2 linked regions of the Homo sapiens genome follow. The protein of the gene in region 1 binds, or shares a complex with, the protein of each later gene. Each region holds a gene or a part of one and is shown in the gene's direction. Other genes may lie near its edges.

Region 1 (7,033 bases):
TTTGCCATTTGCAGAGCCCTTTCAAATCCATGATGTTTGATCCTCAGGCCACGTGAGGTAAATAGGTTGCACATTACCACCCCTCTCCACAGGTGAGGAAACAGAGGCCTGAGAAGCAATGTGACTTTCTCCAGTAATAGTGACTGAATGTAACTCAAATCAAACTCAGGGCTTCTGAGTGCATACCACAGAGGTTTCATAGAAGGTGTTAAAGAAATTCAAAGGCAGGAACAAATCCTGAGGCCCAGGGCAGTCAGAAAAGAATTTTAGGAGGAAATGGGAATTAAACTGGGCTTTGAAAAAAACAGGGACATACACCAGTGGGAAGGAGGCGGAAGGGCGTCCCAGAGAAGTGATGTGGACAAAAGTATGCTGCAGCCCACCTATGATACAGAGCAGGTCCTTTCAAAGGATCAGATGTGGGCAAAACTTGAAAATTGTTTGGTCTTGCTGAGATTTTTCTTTAAAAATAAAAAGGCTGGTTTTGCTTTTTAAATACAAGTCTCCTTTCAACCCTACCCCTAAAAAACTTAAATCAGATTCATTAAAGTTTGTAATCCACAGTCCCATAGAATGACAATCTTAGTAATAACTAGGAGCTATTTTGTTAGGTTTCTTAGAATTCTAACTTAACAGAGAAATTAGAAGCTGTCAACACAGTACACTAACACAGTACAGAGACAAATTTTGTGTATGGCAAAATTTCATAAAGAATGGCAAGGTCTTTTAACCCACATGGGGAAGGCTGTCCGAGGACAATATATGTACTTTCTCCCACCTCAAAGGCTAATCATACACTAGACAGATGTCAATCTTCAAGCAGTTTAACTGGTCCATTTGAGAAAGATAAGTGTTGGATTTTCATATCATAAAGTTAGTAGTAGTAGAAATACCTTGTTTCAGCTGTTCGAGTAACTTATTACCCTTTTCTCTGGCATTATCATGTAAGAGTTTATAAACATAATTGCTCAATGATTTGGAATTATGTATTAATACTATCAAGGAGCAAGGTGAACAAAACCAGAACTCTAGTCAAAGGTTTTGGAGGTGGCTGGCTACTCAGAAACATTTATTTATTCAGCACACATTTATTGAGGGCATTCTTCTTGGCAAGCATTGCTGGCTAGTACAAAGGCCAATTGGTACAAAGGCGAATAACAGAGCCACCATAGAGCCAGGTGTGGTGGCACATGTCTATAGTCCCAGCTGCTTGGGAGGCAGAGGCAGGAGGATCACTTGAGCCCAGCAGTTCAGGGCTATAGTGTGCTATGATTACTTGAATAGCCACTGCATTCCAGCCTGGGCAACATAGCAAAACCCCATCTCAACAAAAAAGCAGAGCCGCCACCTTCAAGAGCACCTGCAGCCTAGTAAGGGAGACAGCAGTTACACTGTAGTATGAGGAAGACTAAACCAGAGAGATATTCAAGATTCTCTGCAAGACCAGAAGAGGGTCTTAACCCTGGGGGAGAAACAGCAGGTCAGATCAGGAAAGGAATCAGGAACCATTTCTAAGATGGAGATAACACTCAGCTAACTGAGAGACAGAAGTGTATAGTGTATATAGAGGCAGCGAGGAAGAAGGAGAGTGCAGGCGTTTGTTCAGGAAACTTCAAAGAACTGGGATGTCTGGAGCATAGATGTGATGGGAGAAGGAGATGTAACAGGCTGGAGAGGGAAGCAAAAGCCAGATTATAGAAGCCACATTGGGAATTTTGGGTTTCCTTGTGTAGACAATGGAGAGCCACCAAAGCATTTAAAACAGAAGAGTTTTCATGGCTACATTTGCATTTTTGAAAAATATAAAAGACCTGAGTATTATGGACCACAAGGTAGTCCTTAGTAATTCGATGGCTGAGAGGAGATTGCCAGATATCCACCCTTGCAGAGGCAGGCTGTGGGCCCTTGGTTCTGCTCCTTTTGGACTTCCAGCTGAATGAGGTGTCCCTGCTTAGCATCCCTATTTTAGGAAGAACTAGAAGAAACTGGAACTGAGATTTCAGATAGCACTGATTAAAGGCAATAAGGAGATAAAAATTTATAGGGGGAATTAATGCTTTTTCTTTTTTGTAAGTAAGCATTCACCTAAAAGAGTTGTGCCTTTTCCCAAAGATGCTCCCACATTGCTCAAGACATTTCTGGAATTTCTCTTTTGAAATTTCTTTAATGTCCAACCTGGATTCATGTCTTTTTATGGTTGCATTTTTTAAATTTTGTACTCCAAAATAAGCACTACTCTATCTGATTTCTTATCTTCCTTACTAGACCTAGCACTGAATTGACTTTTGATGTATTCCCAAAGTTAAATCCATCTTTACAGGATGAAAGTTTTGTTACCTCTGAAGACATAGAAGAAAGTATCTGGTCAAGAAGTTATCAGCTACAAGTTTCTCGACCCTCAGTCTCAGAGACTGCCTATGAAACAGGGGTGATAATAATATTTTTCCTGCCCCCCACCACATTCAGTTATTGTAAAGATGCTACCAGACAACATGGGAAAGCTTTTTGTAGAGTGCTGCATCAGCGAGTGCTATTTTTGTTGTCTCACAGTTTGCAGGCAATTCCAAACTCTGCGTTTACCACATCGTGGTGTCTGTCTGTATGTTCTTACAGATTGTTTACTTCATGGAAGTAGGGCCTGGGTCATATTTGGCTTTGTTTTACCAGTGTCCAGCGTTGGCAGCATGCATTAAAAGCCCCCAGATGTTTTTTGAATGAATAATTGAGTCTAGCTCATTGCCTTTTCCTCAAATCACATATATCAGAAATAAATAATGCACTTGAGATTATTCAGTTCAAATAATAGACTCAGAGGCTACTTGAGTTTCTTTGAGTAGTTTGTCATTAGGAACCAGCTGTTCTCCATCTCTGAAGGGGCAAGGACAAAGGGCTAATGAAATCAATCAATCTGAAAGCATAAAAGCTCTTAAGCTTTATTTCTGTGCCCTTTACTTTGACTGCATTTAAAAATAACTAGGAACATTTTTTTTAAGTTACTGATGCTGGGACCCCATCCCAGAACAATTAAATCAATACCTTTGGAGTTGGAAGCCTGGCACTGATAGTTTTTAAAGCTACTTGGTGATTTTAACATGCAACCTGCATCGGATGCAGGGGCTCTAGAAATATGCTTTGAGAAACATTGCTTTAAACAAATAAAAAATAAAAAAAGGGGCCCTTCTCTCTAGTTCTACATCAGGTGCTATATGAGATGGATAAGAACATAAGGCATGTTCCCACTGCAGTCTTTTGAGGAAATAAAAACTAGCAATCACTAGTATGAGTGAGTGGAAAAGCAACTATCAGTATTTGGTGAGCTGTGAGAAATGAAAAGAGACTTATGCTGAGCCTGAGACTTTCTGCAGAATCTGGTAGATGTTTTAGGGAGTTTATCATCAAAATATAAGACAGTCTCTACCCACAAAAGGAAGTTGACTCTTAGCTTAGCAAGCCTTCTAGTACCAGCCAACAGGCCTGACCAGTACAAAGGGTCTGAAGGCCTTATTCCCAACACAAATCACCATGTTTGGCACCGGGAATGCAACAGTGAACAAGACTCAAACTGTCTCAAACAACTGAGTCTGTTCACAATCAAGTAAACAGGCAATTACAAAATGGGGAGAATTGATGAAAGAAATGAAATAAGGTTGGTGAGATAGGAAGCACCAGTTGTTGGAGGACTTTTAAGGGTAGACTGAGGTATTTATTTCAGTCTAATATGATAACCAGTAGTTTCTGATCAAAAGAATGCTATAAAAGAAATGTGGAAGAAATATTATTTTTTAAGCTTTGGATCTGGGAAGGAAATAGTACAGATGTACAACAATTAGGACACCTGCAACAATCGTAGGGTTGGGTGATAAGTTCCTAAGTTAGGGTGGCTTGGATGTGGGAAGAAGAGGTTTGTAGACTTCCCAATGAAAAAGATAGCTGTTTATATTATATAAGTAATTTAAATTCATTTAAATCGGAAATGAATTGCTAATGTTGGAATTCTATATTAGACTACTTATTGTGTGTCTGAGAATCAGTTCCTCTCTTGATATTTCCCATTGATACAAATAGCTATTGTATCTTAGTCTATTTCACAATTGTGGGAGAACTTTAAAAACTGGATAAGAAGTTAGTGAAGTCAGTCAAGGTCTAGTCCTTTTTGAAAAATCAGTTGTTTACTTCTGTTTGTAATTTTACACAGCCCCATACCAAAAAAACACCAAAAACAATAACAAAAAAACCACTTTCCTGTCAAACACAACCTCTCTGAAAATAGTAAACTTCCATATTTTAACATACTATATATATAATATATACTATATACTACAATATATAATAGATTACATATTATATATGATATATATAATATATACCATAGAGATCAGTTATATATAGTGTATATACTGTATATATACTATATATACTATATACCATATGTATAATATATAGCTATATATTATATATAACCATAGATTTTATATATACACTATATATAATATTGTAACACACTATAAAGTCAATGTTATTTGAGAATCTGAGCCTATGTGAAATTTTTTATTAATCAAACCTAAATTTTTGTCTTTGCCTTCAAGTGAACAAGCTCTACAATTTTCATATGTAAATGATCAGTGTGTAATTAATTCCAAAAAAATTCACTACTTTTTTTGGGCCAATTCCATAAAGAGCCGCAGAGTGGATAGTATTGAGTTATTGGGACATACATGATTGTAAACTATCAGACCCCCTGTACTCAAATTGAGTCCGTATTCTAAATCTTATTGTGTATCCTCATAGGAGACTGTAAAGTGCGGGCATGCTTTCAATTCGTACAGTCTGTGATTTATAGAGGCAAGTAGGTCAGGAATTTATTATGCTGAAAATCATAATAACTGTTTTGTTTTGCTTTTCACAATGAAGTGACCAAAGCATGTTGAAAGATAAATGGATGAAGCATTTTGATTATGCTTGTATTTCTATTAAAGGTTAAATATTATTGCCAAGTAACTAGCCATGCTAAGTATTATGATATTAAAGCTGAAGTAGTTTGTAAGCTGATAGCCCTTTCTTTCCTCTGGGTTTAGGTTTGTTATTAATCAAAATGTTGGACTTGCTTAGTGCAGTGGTGTATGAAACAAACAGTTGAAAAAGACAGCTCCTTTAACTCACGGCTCTCTGCTTTTTTTCAAATTTGTAAGGAAATCTGTTTCTTCTTGTGGACTTTATGCTGTTATTCATGTGTCTAGAGTTCATTTTTTATACCAGAGCCGACTAAATCCAATAGTTGCAAGATTCTCTCATGGCATAGAAAGGAAAAAGGTGCCTTTTTATATTCTTAATTGACAAATTCTGATCAAGTCATTTTTGAAACATGGAGAATCCCTACTAGAAATGGATATTACAGAAAACCATCTGTATTTCTGGGCAGAGAAAAGGATAATTTTTTAAATAGAAGAATATGTATATGAAGAGGTATTAATAAGACAGTAAGTTTGTTTTCTCATATCAATCCAGGAGTATTGATGAAAGTGTTTTAAAGGGCGTATGATTCCAGCTACACTGGTGTTGGCTTAGACATCAACACAGCCAGCCCGTAAGCACTTGGAACGCTGCTGCTAAGCATGTACTGAAGTGCAGTAGAGGGGTCTAGATGCCCCCGATGTGTGGTAAAGTACCTTTAACAGGACAGTCCTACCATTCTTCTGCACTTACTTCTCATCAGTGGTAATATTACAATTTTAAAGGGTGCATTTTGTGGGGGATGCAGCAAAGATTGTAAGAAGTGTTGAAGAAAAAGGCTACCTCTCAATGACTGGAGAAAAAAAGGCTTAATTTATTACTTAAGTAAAGAGGAGCTGTGCTTTTAGGCACAGTGTCTCCAAGCAAAGCAGGCTGCAAATCTTACATAGTGTTTTGGGGTCAGGAATTGTTTAGGGGCAGCTATCACCCTCAGAAGCCCCATTATTTGAAAGAAACTATTGTTGACTGGCTGGCTTTCAGAAGCATATTCACTGGAGCCAGTCTGCAGCCGACAGGCCAACTTTCAAAAGCATGTGGCTATCACTGGTTAATTGGCTTTCAGAGGTGTATTTACTGAAGTGAGTTGTCACTGATTATTTAGACCTTGGTGAGATATCATTAACTGCATAAATCTGGTTTAATTATTCTTCCAACTGGTTCTAGTGGTTTACTTAATACCATGGCTGTCGAACAGTCAGCCTTTTTCTGGGAGTTAGAGATTGTCTTACTTTCAGAAGCTAATACCTAAACGCTGTAGGAAATTGAACGCACAAGAAAATTAGATTTTGCAACTATTGTACAATACATTTTCTAATTAAGGGTGTCTACTAAAGGAATGGAAGTGTAAAAAGTCAGCAACTCCACATGTGAAATAGCATATTCAGGTATTAAGATCAGTTATGAAATTTGATACAAATTATGTATCATTAATAATATAGTTCTAAGCATGGTGGCATGCGCTTGTAATCTCAGCTCCTTGGGAGGCTGAGGCAAGGTGTTCACTTGATCCCAGGAGTTCGAGACCATCTGGGGCAACATAGCAAGATCTCATCTCAAAAATAATAATAATAATAATAATGAAGTATAAAAATGTGAATGTGACTTATTCAGTAAATTAAAGTAGATTCTAGATCATCCATATATATCATTTCTACTTATTGCTTTCCAGTAAGCTTTCTCAGGTGGGACAAAAGAAGGTAGAAACGGTACATAAGTCTCAACTCGCCAGCCCTGGTGAGCAGCAGCTACTGAACCCTTAGTAATGATGGTATCACTAAAATTGTGACATTTTATTTCCCTCCTAAAATCTTTTTAGGATTCTTCAAAATCTAGGTATACCCATGTGAGTTTGCCACACAAGTAAATTTCACTCATCATTTGTGCTGCTGTAGAGAGAAAAGAGTGAGGGATCTTCACTACTGCCTACCTACTACCCAGATCTCTGCTTATATGGGGGAAAAGATATTAGCATCATATTTGGGTTTCATCTGAAAGTTACAACAGGCATATAAGAAGTATTAAT
Region 2 (7,033 bases), on another chromosome or scaffold:
GGGTATGAAGATTGCCTGCACCCAACCCCGGAGAGTGGCTGCCATGAGTGTGGCCGCCCGAGTGGCCCGGGAGATGGGTGTGAAGCTTGGGAATGAGGTGAGATTTCTAGGGAACCGGGGGGTAGAGTCTGGGGTCTGTGACTCAGTCTACAGTTCCCTCAGGTCCCTACAGCAGAAGTCTTGGTGCTGCCCCACTTCACCTTTCCCCAAGTTCCTTTCAGGGCACACCAGCCCACACTTGGTTGCTAATGGTTCCCTTGACCAGGTTGGCTACAGCATCCGCTTTGAGGACTGCACATCAGAGCGAACTGTCCTCCGCTACATGACAGATGGGATGCTTCTCCGGGAGTTCCTCTCTGAGCCTGACCTGGCGAGTTACAGGTATCTCTAATCTCTGGCCTTTCTCTCCCTTCTTCCCACCCAGCCAATTCAGCCATTGTCTTCTGATTAATCCACCCGTTCTTGAATCTTTGTGGTTCAAATGGTCCTTGAACTGACCTCCAGGTACCACGGAGATGGGGCTGGAGGACAGAAGAGATTGTAGAGAAAGCCTCTTCTTTCCCCATTCATCTCCAGGGTTTAGAAAACAACCAGGATAGCAGAGCATTGCTGCCGAGACTTGAAATACCGTGTGAAGACCATTTGAAAACACTTGGAATGCTCAGCTCAGAGGGAGAAACAGGAAGCATCCTGGTTCCCTCTAAATATGTGAAGGCTGTTACATGGAAAGAAGGATCAGATTGTTTTATGTGACCCTACACGACATAGCTAGGAGCCATGGGGAGGTTACAGGGAGACAGATTCCAACTCAATACCAATGGCTGAGTAACCCTCAGAGTGGTGGAGATTGCAGGGCCTGTCAGAGTGGTTGGACTCTGGGTCTTGGCCCTCCACACAAGTCTTGGGTAGCTTGGTCTGTGAATAATGAGCTCTTAGTGCTGGAAATGGCCAAGCAGGGGTTGGTTGAACATGTGTTGAGGGGGAAAAGGGATTCATGAATGTAATGGGGGTGGGGTCAGGCCAGCTGAACAATATGTGCCTTTTTGACTCTTCAGAGGCTGTGAATTTCTGGTCTTGGAAGATCACAGTGGAGCAATTGGACAGATAGGATTTTATCCTTCATATCCCTTGCAAAAGATCTCTAAGAACCCATGGAGAGCCAGCCAGCGCAAGAGTGTCTGATGCAGATGTTTTTGCCCATCGAGCCAGCCTGCTTTGTGGAATGGCTGGGGACTTCACCATCACAGTTAGGGTTAGGCACAAAGAGTTGAGGTCAGGGAGGTGGGTAGGGGAAGATGGGGATGAGTTCCTGGGACTTGGCTGCCACCCAGAAAAGCCAAAGAACAAAGAGAAAGAAGGTGTCATGCACATAACTGAGTTAGGAGGAAACCAAGGAGCATGCAGAGTCCTGTGAGAGTTGAGGTAGAAAGGCTTAACTTGCTCCTGTCTCCAAAAGAAGAAACAGTCAAGAATGATGCCAGCAGCAGTTGTCCCACAGGACACCAGGAGCTTCTAGGCTATTTGAATCACAGCAGCTCAGGTCTATTACCCCCAGTCAGCCTTGCTGGCCCACCCTTATTGAAAGGGACCCTGCCTTCCACTTTTTTTTTCCTTTAAAACGTATCAGCCGGGAGCGGTGGCTCACGCCTGTAATCCCAGCACTTTGGGAGGCAGAGGCAGGCGGATCACGAGGTAAGGAGATCAAGACCATCCTGGCTAACACGGTGAAACCCCGTCTCTACTAAAAAATATAAAAAATTAGCTGGGCGTGGTGGCGGGCACCTGTAGTCCCAGCTACTCAGGAGGCTGAGGCAGGAGAATGGCGTGAACGCAACCCAGGAGGCGGAGCTTGCGGTGAGCCGAGATCGTGCCACTGTACTCCAGCCTGGGCGACAGAGTGAGACTCTGTTTCAAAACTCCGTCTCTACTAAAAATACAAAAAATTAGCCAGGCACAGTGGCAGGCACCTGTAGTCCCAGCTACTTGGGAGGCTGAGGCAGGAGAATGGTGTGAACCCAGGAGGCGGAGCTTGCAGTGAGCTGAGATCATGCCACTACACTCCAGCCTGCAACAGAGCAAGACTGTCTCAAAAAAAAAATCCTTCCACTTTTTCTTTTTTCTTTTTTTAGATGGAGTCTCGCTCTGTCACCCAGGCTGGAGTGCAGTGGCACGATCTTGGCTCACTGCAACCTCTGCCTCCCAGGTTCAAGCGATTCTCCTGCCTCAGCCTCCCAAGTAGCTGGGACTACAGGCGTCTACCACCACATCTGGCTAATTTTTTTTGTATTTTTAGAAGAGACGGGGTTTCACTGTATTGGCCAGACTGGTCTCGAACTCCTGACCTTGTGATCCACCTGCCTCGGCCTCCCAAGGTGCTGGGATTACAGGCGTGAGCTACCACCATGCCCAGCCTAAAACATATCCTTCAACTTTTTCTAGTAAGAGCAGCTGCTGAGTCTAAGCAGACTCTTGACTGAACTAGAGGGTATGGCTAACTTGTCCTGGCCTCAGTGTGCAGCCTCTACATCTTGTCTCCTATTATCTGCTGAGGCTGGGATAGGTTGCAGATCATGGGGCCCTGGCCTTCTCTGACTTTCTGTTGCTCTACATAAGTGGGATGGCTGACTTCTCCTTAGAGCCCCCTCCGTCAACAGTCATTCTTGAACTCTTTGTGTCCATTACTCCCCTCTCATCCAGTTAACTCTGGTGTCTGATACTGCATTGCCTAGCGCTCTTCCCTCATTGCTCTCCTATTCCCTCCCCAGCGTGGTGATGGTGGATGAGGCACACGAAAGGACCCTACACACAGACATTCTCTTTGGATTGATCAAGGATGTTGCTCGCTTCCGACCTGAGCTCAAGGTCCTGGTGGCTTCAGCCACAATGGACACTGCCCGTTTTTCCACCTTCTTTGATGACGCCCCTGTGTTTCGAATCCCCGGACGCAGGTTTCCTGTGGACATCTTCTACACCAAGGTGCCCCCTCAGGGAGGATGGGCTTAAGTCTGTGGCAGAAAAGCTGAGGCCTTTGGAGAAGGTTATCCTGTGGAGGGAAAGATGGAATGGAAGGTTCAAAGGGGAACTAGGATAAAGTGTATGTTGAATTGGGAGGAGAGGAAAGGTTTGCCTAAGCAGGTGGCCCTCCTGTGACCCCATCTCTTTCTGCTCTCCAGGCTCCAGAGGCTGACTACTTGGAAGCTTGTGTAGTATCTGTGTTGCAGATCCATGTGACCCAGCCCCCTGGGGATATCCTGGTGTTCCTGACAGGACAGGTGCCTGACATGGTGGGGAGAGGGGATGATGTATCCCAGGGGAAGACAGGGCCGGCATGTTGGCCTTCTGTGACTCTGGGACCCCTGCTGCTCTCCCTACCCTCTATCCAGGAGGAGATTGAGGCTGCCTGTGAGATGCTCCAGGATCGCTGCCGCCGCCTGGGCTCCAAAATCCGGGAGCTCCTGGTGCTGCCCATTTATGCCAATCTGCCCTCTGACATGCAGGCCCGTATCTTCCAGCCCACACCACCTGGGGCACGAAAGGTCAGTTGGAGAAACCCACACTCTTCACCCCTATGCTTCCCACAACTAGTAGTGAAAAAGCTGTGTGCCTGCCCCATGCAAGGTGAGTCCTGCGCACTGCTGCACACAGCTGAGGAGCAGCCAGTCCCTTGTTCCTGGGACTGAAGAGAGGAGAAATATGGTGTGAACCAAGAGAGAGCCAAATATGTGATCTGGAAAGTATGCACAGTAGATTCAGTGGAGAAGGGAAGTCCTTGATGTGCTAAGAGGTGGGATTTGATATGGACCTTTAAGAGAAATGTCTGAGGTCAGGTGCGGTGGCTCACGCCTGTAATCCCAGGACTTTCGGAGGCTGAGGTGGGCGGATCACTTGAGGTCAGTAGTTCGAAACCAGGCTGCCTAACGTGGTGAAACCCTGCCTCCACTGAAAATACAAAAATCAGCAGGGCATGGTGGCGTGCGCCTATAATCCCACCTGTTTAGGAGGCTGAGTCATGAGAATCGCTTGAACCCAGGAGGAGGAGGTTGCAGTGAGCTGAGATTGTGCCACTGCACTCCAGCCTGGGTGACAATGCGAGACTCCATCTCAAAAAAGAAAAATGGCTGAGAAGTCATCAGAGGAAGGCCCAAGGTATGTTTGAGGTCAGAGTGTGAGCTAGTAGGCTTAGTGGGAGGTTCATGTGGTGAAGGAGTAGGAGACAAGGCTAAAAACAATTTGGGGCTAAGATTAGGGAGGGCCTTTGATGACAGGAAAGTTTGGACTTTATTTATTTTTCTTTTTTGAGACAGAGTCTCGCTCTGTTGCCCAGGCTGGAGTGCAGTGGCAAGATCTCGGCTCACTGCAGCCTCCACCTCCCAGGCTCAAGTGATTCTTGTGCCTCAGCTTCCCAAGTAGCTGGGATTACAGGTGTGTACCACCACCCCAAGCTAATTTTTTTTTTTTTTTTTTTGAGATGGAGTCTCACTCTGTCGCCCAGGCTGGAGTGCAGTGGCACCAACTCTGCTCACTGCAACCTCTGCCTCACAGGTTCAAGCGATTCTCCTGTCTCAGCCCCCCAGTAGCTGGGATTACAGGTGCCCTCCACCACGCCTGGCCAATTTTTTGTATTTTTAGTAGAGATGAGGTTTCGCTATTTTGGCCAGGTTGGTCTCAAACTCCTGACCTCAGGTGATCTGCCCACCTTGGCCTCCCAAAGTGCTGGGATTATAGGCGTGAGCCACCATGCCTGGCCAACACCCAGCTAATTTTTAGTAGAGATGGGGTTTCGCCATGTTGGCCAGGCTGGTCTTGAACTCCTGGACTCAAGTGATCCGCCTGCCTTGGCCTCTCAAAGTGCTGGGTTACAGGCATGAGCCACTGTGCTTGGCGAAGTTTGGACTTTAGACAGCTGAGTAGCAGTCAAAGGATTTTGAGCAGAGATATAACTTTCATTCAACAAATATTTAATGAGTTCCTTCTGTGTGTCAGGTACACAGGGGTTGATGATACAGTGATGAACAAAACAAAGTCCTTAGCCTAACAAACTTGCACTTGTGGTCTATCGGGGAAGCAGTGGATGCATAAATACATATTGTCAATTTGTGGCCAGTGCTATGAAGAGATACAAGGCAGCATAGTAGGATGGAACTTGACTCTGTGGGGTGGGAGTGAGGACTGGCATGAAGGTATTTTCCTTGGGGTGTAGGGAGGGCCTCTTCAGTAAGGGGAAAGTGGAATAGAGACCCAAACCAGGTGAGGGAGGGAGCCAGGCTGATATCTGGGAGAAGAGTATGCCAGACAGAGGGAATAGCTGATGCAAATGATCCAGTGAGGAGTGCACTTACTTGGGCAGAGCAAAGCAGTGTGTGGGAGGAGTGAGGGAGGTGGTGGAGTGCTAGCAGATGAGGTCAGAAAGGCAGCTGGGGTAGGTGATCCAGGCTTTTAAGGGGCTTGGATTGAATTCTAGAGTAGGATAGGAAGCCACTGAAGGATGGGGAGTGATGTGACAGGTTTGTATTTTAAAAGGACCATCCTGGATGCCATGTGACAGAGGCTAGGAGCAGAAGCAGGGATACACGTTAGGAGGCTCTTACAGGAAGTGTTGTGTGAAGACGAAAGCGGTGATGGGGAGGATCGGGCAGGAACTTGAACACCCCCATTTCCCATCTCTGAAAAAAAAAAAAAACCCTAAATCCTCTTCTCCATTTCCTTTCCTCCTATGGCCCTGCTGACTCCCAGCCCCCACTTCCCTGTCCCCTGTCTTCTGGCCTTGTCCCCTGCTCCTGACCTTGGATACTACTAATTCCCTCAGCTCCTGCCCCTTACTGCAACTGCTTCACTACTCCTAACTTTCCAAGATTACTTTTTCTGGGTAACTAGGTAGGTGGGGTCACTGGGTGACCCCATATCCTATCACTCAGGTGGTTGTGGCAACGAACATTGCTGAGACATCACTCACCATTGAGGGCATCATTTATGTGCTGGATCCAGGGTTCTGTAAGCAGAAGAGCTACAACCCCCGCACAGGCATGGAATCGCTCACTGTCACACCCTGCAGCAAGGTCAGCCTGGGGATGCATGGGAGTGGGGGAGGTGGAGTTGGCCCACAGAGAAGGTCCAACTCAGAAGCAGGGTGGGGGCTTCCTAGGGAACCGGGATGAGCAGTTTGCATCCTTCCAGATTTCTTGCATAAATACTGCCTTTTTCTTTTCCCTGACCAAATTGTCAGCCAGCCTGTTCCCCTTTCTTTCCAGGCCTCAGCCAATCAGCGAGCTGGCAGGGCAGGTCGGGTGGCTGCAGGGAAGTGCTTCCGCCTGTATACCGCCTGGGCCTATCAGCACGAGCTTGAGGAAACCACAGTGCCTGAGATCCAGAGGACCAGCTTGGGCAATGTCGTGTTGCTGCTCAAGAGCTTAGGTGATTGGGCTACCTGAGAGAGGAGGGAGGGGCTGGAGTCACTGTCCTTTGAAGGGACTCTGTTCCATCCATCACACCTCTTTCTAGGGATCCATGACCTAATGCACTTTGATTTCCTGGACCCTCCACCATATGAGACACTGCTGCTGGCTTTGGAGCAGCTGTATGCTCTGGGAGCCCTCAACCACCTTGGGGAGCTCACCACGGTGAGTCGGGGGACAGCATGGGTGGAGGCAGGATGATAGGGGTCAGGATGGCTCCAGGGACCCCTGTAGTAGTAGCGGGAAACCTGAGGGAGGACTGGGCTCAACTCTCTCTCTCTTCTCCTTAGTCTGGTCGAAAGATGGCAGAGCTGCCGGTGGACCCCATGCTGTCCAAAATGATCTTAGCCTCTGAGAAGTAAGCCCTCGCCTCCACCTGGGCCCCCAGCACACAAACAGGCCAGGCCTCCTCTGTCTCCAGGGTCCCCTTTGTCTGTCTTTTTCTGTTCATCATACTATCCCTTAACACATAATAAAGTATTAGATAACTCTGATTGCCCCCTTTTGAGGCCCACAAGGGTAAGACACTTGATCCTATCCTTGATTCCACTGCGCCCGGCCCCTTGAGGAACTTACTTGTT

What was found. The genes of interacting proteins can lie anywhere in the genome.
Region 2: CWC27 (region 1) and DHX16 share a complex: the UniProt entries of both Homo sapiens proteins name them as parts of the minor spliceosome.

What each region holds. Positions count from the first base shown.
Region 1 is NC_000005.10:65,009,905-65,016,937, forward strand, and holds part of CWC27 (spliceosome-associated protein CWC27 homolog), read left to right. Parts: intron 1-7,033. UniProt on the Homo sapiens protein: As part of the spliceosome, plays a role in pre-mRNA splicing. Probable inactive PPIase with no peptidyl-prolyl cis-trans isomerase activity. As a component of the minor spliceosome, involved in the splicing of U12-type introns in pre-mRNAs.
Region 2 is NC_000006.12:30,655,975-30,663,007, reverse strand, and holds part of DHX16 (pre-mRNA-splicing factor ATP-dependent RNA helicase DHX16), read left to right. Parts: coding exon 1-97; intron 98-265; coding exon 266-381; intron 382-576; exon of another isoform or gene 577-1,151; coding exon of another isoform or gene 1,152-1,252; intron 1,253-2,390; exon of another isoform or gene 2,391-2,438; intron 2,439-2,765; coding exon 2,766-2,976; intron 2,977-3,173; coding exon 3,174-3,272; intron 3,273-3,383; coding exon 3,384-3,536; intron 3,537-5,915; coding exon 5,916-6,056; intron 6,057-6,248; coding exon 6,249-6,411; intron 6,412-6,498; coding exon 6,499-6,617; intron 6,618-6,742; coding exon 6,743-6,810; intron 6,811-7,033. UniProt on the Homo sapiens protein: Required for pre-mRNA splicing as a component of the spliceosome. Contributes to pre-mRNA splicing after spliceosome formation and prior to the first transesterification reaction.